Homo sapiens: one gene and its partner. The protein of the gene in region 2 purifies or fractionates together with the protein of the main gene of each other region. This does not show direct contact. Each region holds a gene or a part of one and is shown on either strand. Other genes may lie near its edges.

Region 1 (3,500 bases), on a different chromosome or scaffold from region 2:
CAGAGTTTCAAGAGAGGAAAATGGGGAGTTAGTGTTTGATGGATACAGAGATTCAAGAGAGGAAATGGGGAGTTAGTGTTTGATGGATACAGAGTTTCATCTGGGGCAGATGAGCGTTCTGGAGATGGTGGTGATGGTTGCACAACAATTGAAGGTACTTCATGCCACGGATCTGTATGCTTAAAAATGGTAAATTTTACATTATGTAAATTTTATCACAATTTTTTAAATGTAATTTTCTTTTTTTTAGTCTAGTCAAGTGCAGCAGTGAGAAGGGGGGAAAGAGTAGAACAAGGAGTTGGATCTGTAGCTGACTGTGAACAATCAAATGAGATAACTCACTCCCTTTGGACCAGCCTAAAATGTCACTTTTGAAGAGGTAATATTCAAGAATCTGCCCAGTTCCTCACCCCCTGTAGGTAACCATTTATAACACAGTAGATTACTATATATACTGTTCTGTGTCTTTAAAAGTACATTTAAAGCACTCTGCTACGTGTGCTTTTTTGCCAAACCCCTTCCCAGAAGCCATTACCTGGCAGGTAATGAAGAGCCCCACAGGCATAGAGGGTGAGGCATCTCTTGGGATGACATTCACTTTTACCCACAGTCCCCCAGACCACTGGCTGACCCATACCTTTTTCTGGCCAAAATCAATGAGGTTCTGCAGATCCAAGTCATCTCGGTAGTGCACAATGGCATTGTTGATGATCTCACTCACTTTCCCTCGAGCCTGCCGGAGACATGGGCAAGGAATCAGAACACAGGACTAATCCCTAACTTGCTCCTTCCAGCAAAAATAACAGTAGACAGGGATCATCCTTCTTAACTGAGTCTGCCTTGAAATCAGAACCGAGTCCTAATGGTGGAAGATAGCCGGTTCAGTTCCAAAGCCCATCCCAGGGCCCTCAGGTACCAGTGGGCAGGAGAAATGCTGGACCTGCTGTTGAAGCTTTTCAGAGACACATTTCAAGATATACCAATGTGTATCTATCTCTGAATGCTATTATCACAAAATACTTGTTGACTGATAAAAACAAACTAATTTTTAATTTTTTTAGCAGAAAGTAGCTTACTGAGCTGAGGCACTGCCCTCTAGTGGACACTAGATAATTGCATCTCTTTAGACTCAAAACAGAGCTATTTAATACATCATTTCAGGATCTTACTGTAAGCCAGGAGGACTACGAAATTCGGAATTAACTCAGTGGCTCTCGATTTCATAATTTTCTCCCCTCCCCTCCCCTCTCCCTTTCTCTTTTCTTTTCTTGATACAGTTTTACTGTCGCCCAGGCTGGAGTGTAGTGGCGCGATCTCAGCTTACTGCAACCTCCTTCTCCTGGGTTCAAGCAATTCTTGTGCCTCAGCCTCCTGACACCTGGCTAATTTTTTTGGTGTTTTTTAGTAGAGACAGGGATTCGCCATGTTGGCCAGGCTGGACTCGAACTCCTGGCCTCAAGTGATCTGCCCGCCTCAGCCTCCCAAAATGCTGGGATTACAGGCATGAGCTACCGCGCCTGGCCCAATTTCATAATTTTCTACCATAGTCTCTTCCTTCCTGCCCCACTACTTTTCTCAAATTTTCTTTCCTTAGTTTTGTAGTCTGCCCTTGGCAATCATTTGCCTTTTGGGAAAGACATTCTGGTTCTTAAAAAGGACTGTCACTGAATGGCAGACCATTTCCAGATATGGCAAGCATTGTTCAAAACCTTTTATTAAGCCAATCATGGTGGCACATGACTGTAATCCCAGAGACTTAGGAGATGGAGGCAGGAGGATCACTTGAGCCCAGGAGTTCAAGGCCAGCCTGGCAACCTAGTGAGACTCCCATCTCTTAAAAAACAAAAACAACAACCAAAAAAAAAAAAAAAAAGAAAGAAAGAAAAATAAACCTCAAAACAAAATCTTGTTCTCTTCCCCCTTCCTTCCTTCTGTTTATCTCAATAAACAATTTTTAAAAGAAATAAGAGGCTCTTCATATTGTCAGTGGTCCACTTGATTATTGAGTTTGATTCTGTCATTTGCTATTAAAGTTTCTAAGTTATTTTAACTTTGTGTTTGTATAATTTACTTCCCTGTTAGCTTCTCAGACTGTCAGAGGAAAGCACCTTATGATCTTAAAATTCTCTTCAAATATGATGAGTTTACAGGCTATTCATTCACCCCTAATGAACTTTTCAACGACTGATGTTTCTCAGGGGAAGGAGCTGTGGTTAATTAACCAGGCTAAACATGGGCAGGAACCTTCCTTCCTCCCTCTGGGTCACACCTGAGGAGGCCTCCTGGCTCCCAGTGTTACCTTGTCTGAGAAGACGAAGCCCAGGATCCCAGCGGCCAGCTGCAGCAGGAACACAGCGGTGAGGCAGAGGGAGAACTGTGGAGCAGCAGGAAGAAGAGGCGTCTAGGACCACTCATGGCAGCAACCCCTTCCAGGGCCAAGGGGATGCTGGGAGCTGCCAGGCAATTCTCCCAGATGCCCCACACATGAGAAAGGCAGCTGCCTCTGGGACACTGTCTTGGGGGTGGCCACCCTGTGCTGGGTCACCCGGGCTAAGCTCTGCACTGAGGGGTGGACAGCACAGGCTTGGGGGTAGGGTAGGACAAGGCAACCAAAGGGCCGTGGGAGGCTAAGAGGCATGATGGGGAGAGGGCCAGGGTCTTTCCAGTGGGGCCTTGACCACTCACCGTCTGCAGGAGGCAGATGTTCTCGCGGAGGGACCCAATGCAGCCACAGAAGGTGAGCAGGAACATGAGGACACCCACCACGATCAGCAGGATGGCAGGGTCCACTGCCAGGCAGGCTAGGGCTGCTTCTGGAAAAGGAGCCGGCCCTCAGCCTGAGCCTGGTGCCCACTGAGGAACCCCTGGATGGGGTGGGAGGGTGCCCCAAACTGTTCTCCTTCCCCTGGTGGGGGAATCTCCATTATGGTTGGATGAAGGTTAAGGGGAGGCAGTACCCCTGTCCCATGGGGAGAACCAAAAAGGGCCCAGAAGGGTTGTGGCATTTAATTTGAGGAACTAAAGAAATAAAAGCCTTTATTCCTGGGCTTAAGGAGGGGCTGCTTTCGCTCCGCAAAAGAATTGGAATGGCATTAGGCTCACCAGCTTTGCAGATTCTGTTTCCTGGTGACTTGTGTGGTGAAATAGGAATGGTGGTTGGGTTTCTCCAGGACAGAGCTAGGGAGGGGCTAAAGCCCTTGATGACTCTCTGCTCCCAGGGGCCTACCTTCTTTCTCACACACTTCCTAAGCCTCAAATGTAGGCATATCCTGGAAGACTCAGAGGGGCTCAGGGAAATCCAGGGGCACTGGCCTGGGGGGGTCTGACACCTACGTAGACCATGAAGATTTGGCTCCAGGGAGGCTGCCTCCTTTAGCCCCATAGCTTATGTGTGAGGGCCAGGCTGAAGGAGGCAGAGGGGAAAGGGGCATGGCACAAGGTGGGGGCAGGGAGGGAGAGCTACAGCTCACCTGCATGCTTCATTAGCCGAGCGTAGACAC
Region 2 (3,500 bases):
TCCAGAGCAGAAGGAAGTCGAGATACCCTTGATGGGGAAACTGAGGGCCCAGCAGGAGAGGGCCCAAGCCGGCCACCCTGTCTGCTCAGCCCAAGAACTCTCCCCATCCATGGCCCTGCCCTTGCCAGGCCGAGTTACAGGGCTGGCTTTTCACCCATGTGCAGAGCCCGGAAGAGAGGCAATGGCAGGTAGCTGGCAAGCGCACGATGCCCGGGACACTGCTCTTACGAGGAACTACAGACCTGTAGTTTAAATAGTTTCTTTTACCCAGCATGCTTTTTAAAGTCTCAAAGCCATCCTTTGGCCTGGCCATCTCACCCAGTTTTGTAATGGGCATGGATGTGAAAACTGTGGACTGTCGCATCTCACCATTAGGCTGACGATGCTATAGTGAAGAATGCCCCGCCCCATGCCAAAAAAGATCTGCGTGTGTCCTCATCCCTGGAACCTGTGAACATGGCCTTATTCAGGAACAGGGTCTTTGCAGGTGTAATTAAGTTAAGGATGTTAAGATGAGGTCATTCTGGATTTAGGATATAAACCGAGATTGGAATGATATGGCCACAAGCCAAGGAACATCCGGAGTCCCCTGGAACTGGGAGAGAATCAACTTCTGTTGTTTTGAGCCACTCAGTTTGTGACTCTCTGTTCTGGCAGCCCCAGTGAACTCATACAGCTTTGGCAAACCTCACCAGTGAGACCTTTTGGCTCCCAGGGCATTAGCCTTTTCGTTCAAAGAGCTCACAACTACTTTGTTGCTACGAACCAAACCTCCTTGCCACCCCAGCCACCTAGAAGGGGAAATCATCAGAAAATCAGGCCAAAATGTATCTGACATGGTGCTTCCAGCCAAATAAGCTCTCCAGCAAAGGTCCACACAGGAGAAGCCCTCTAGCCAGCCACCAGGACCTCCCCTGCCACTGTGGCCTCCATTTTGAGGACATCTTTGGGTGTAGGATTTTTTTTAATAATAAATATTCGTTCAATGACATTTTAGTTACCAACTAGTTTAGTCAGTCATACAGGAAAGATTTTTCTGTCAGTCAGTTCTAACTTTGTCCTACAGATCTGGTTTAATCTAAATCTGGGCTTTTATCTTTTCCCAAGAGGCCACCTTGAGAACCTGGATGCTTATCCAAAATCTTCACTCCTCTCCTGGCAAGCGGGATGCTCTGAGTTGTTCTCCCAAAGTGTCCCTGGCCAGGTCCTTGCTCCCTCTCCTCTAAAACAGGGAGGGGAGACGAGTATGGAGAGCTCCCAGCCCAAAGAGCAGTTTCAAATGAGGATCCCTGGCCGTGGGGAAGGCCATGTGGATTGAGCTGTGTCCCAGAATCCCCATCTCGTTCCAATCCACCTGCCGGAGGGAGAGCCCACGGAGGACAGCCTTGGGGCCTCTTGAACAGAAAACCCCTGTATTAGGCGGCTTCTACTTTTTTGCCAAATGCAATAAGAACACGGTCAGAGATGAAGGGCTGTGACTATGTACCTGGTTGCCCTGGGCTCCTTGTTCCAGGCACAGCCCAGGAGGCTGATGCAAAACTTCCCCCGCCGCGCTAAATGCAACTCGACCCTCTCGCCCAATGTCTCCTTCTAAATATCAGTGTCCAGGCAATTAGAAGGTTGGATTCCCATCTTTTTCACCAGTTAGAGGATTCCTTGATTTTTGATTTGAGGGAAAAGGGTAACTCTAAAAACAATCCATTCCCCAGCCCTGGACTCTGTCTGACCCATTCCCTGCTCATGCCACTCTACAGTCAAGCTTCCGGATCCACGGTGGGTCCGTGGGATCTCAAGCAGGGTGGCCATGAACAGTTTCGCAGGCTGCGCACTGACATGTCAACGTGCTCCTGCAGTACTGCTGTGCCTGCTGTGTGTGTCGCCCTGGTCAAGAATGTTCTACAAGAGTGAAGCAAACAAATATGATGGTCAGATTAATAAACAGTTGGAGACTTCCGTAAAGCATCTTGGGACCCAGGTTAGTTTTCTGGGAAGCTCAGCTCAGGCTAGACTTAAGGGCGGAGGGCCACAGCAAGGGTAGGGAAAGACCCACGTGGGTTGCTTCTAAGCTTCCCATTGCATCAAAGGGGCCGGGGAAGGAGTGGAAAGAGACAAGCTACAGCTGAGTCACATTCTGTCACTTGAACTGAAAATTGCCAGCCTTGAACTGGAGACACGCTCCACTCAGCAAACAGTGACAGAGCATCCATCTGTGCTTACAAAAGGGACAAGCAAGGTCTTGTTCCCTCAACAGCATCCCCACAGGGCTGCCTGATGTGGGGCGCCGATGGGTGAAGACAGGATTCCATTTGTAACTATTCCATTAATCTATGACTTCCAGACTCACAGCTACAGCATGAGATGAAAACTGTCTTTTAAAAACCTAGTAAAGGGTGGTGGGTCGGGGGGGAACCACACCATTCTTTCTCTCACATTCCTACTTCTTTGGAGCAATTAATGATTCCATACAGTTTGTGGCTCGTAGGGGGAAGAGCACCAGGCAGTGACTTCTCACGATGTGACGGGGGCACTGCCAGAGCAATAAGGGCCGTGCTTTGCAAACCCCCAGGAACTGCTGCCCTCTGCTCCTGAGGGAGCCAGCAGCATGGGAGGGAGCTGGTGACGCAGGGCCTCCAAAGGCCCTCATCCGCTTGGCTGAGGTCTGAAGCTATGGGTGCAGTCCAGGGTCCCTCCCATTCTACGTGAAGGAAACATCACAGTGGTCACTGAGCTCTGTCCCCACAGAAATACCCCTGGGAGCTGGGGCCCTGGAAGGTGAAGGTCATCAGGGCCAGCCCCACGCGCTCTTGCAGGGTGGTTTACACTTTAATTCAGCCCAGATCTGTCCCCAGGGATTTCCAAAACTGTTGCCTCCACCCCCGTCCCAGGAAGTCTGCTTGGGAGTGGGTCTCAGGCAGGCTGTGGAGGGATCTGGATCTGTCCTGGCCCCTTTCCCTCCAAAGACCTTGCCAGCTGGTTCCTAGCCACGAGTGGGTGGCTGCACTTACGCTGAATGCTGAAGCAGAACTTCTTCTGCTGGTAGGAGATGTAGCTGGAGACGGCACCGATGAGGGCCATGGCCAGGGCGCTGGCCACCCCGGCAATGGTGCCAGGCTCTGCCACCATGCCTGCGTGAAGAAGGGGGAGAAATGAGGACAGGTGAGGTCAGAGACAAAGCACCGCAGGGAGCAGCCTGGGAGCCTGCTTCTCCTCTAGCACCAAACTACTAGACGCCCCCAACCCCCAAGCCAGCAGGAGAGGGCCATGCCACACAGATCTACGGCATTACAAAGACATGGTGCCCCTTGGATTTGCCTAGGACTTCTCGTTTTCTGTAAGGGCTTCACTTTTGAGGAGCTTGAAAGGGAGACACGGAAATGGTGCAGAGCTCTCTGTGACTGACGCCCTGCAGGCTTCCCACTGGGCTACTTCCCCCGGCACCCCAATCTTCATGCTTCCTTCCTTCAAATGGCTACACCCCTCTATTGGCCTCATGATTATCT

The links.
Region 1: the proteins of CD99L2 (region 2) and TSPAN33 purify together in Homo sapiens (affinity purification with mass spectrometry; one large-scale study listed by BioGRID and IntAct). This does not show direct contact.

What each region holds. Positions count from the first base shown.
Region 1 is NC_000007.14:129,161,707-129,165,206, reverse strand, and holds part of TSPAN33 (tetraspanin-33), read right to left. Parts: coding exon 3,471-3,500; intron 2,814-3,470; coding exon 2,686-2,813; intron 2,375-2,685; coding exon 2,300-2,374; intron 734-2,299; coding exon 638-733; intron 359-637; exon of another isoform or gene 249-358; intron 1-248. UniProt on the Homo sapiens protein: Part of TspanC8 subgroup, composed of 6 members that interact with the transmembrane metalloprotease ADAM10.
Region 2 is NC_000023.11:150,773,169-150,776,668, forward strand, and holds part of CD99L2 (CD99 antigen-like protein 2 isoform 1 precursor), read right to left. Parts: intron 3,126-3,500; coding exon 3,006-3,125; intron 1-3,005. UniProt on the Homo sapiens protein: Plays a role in a late step of leukocyte extravasation helping cells to overcome the endothelial basement membrane. Acts at the same site as, but independently of, PECAM1.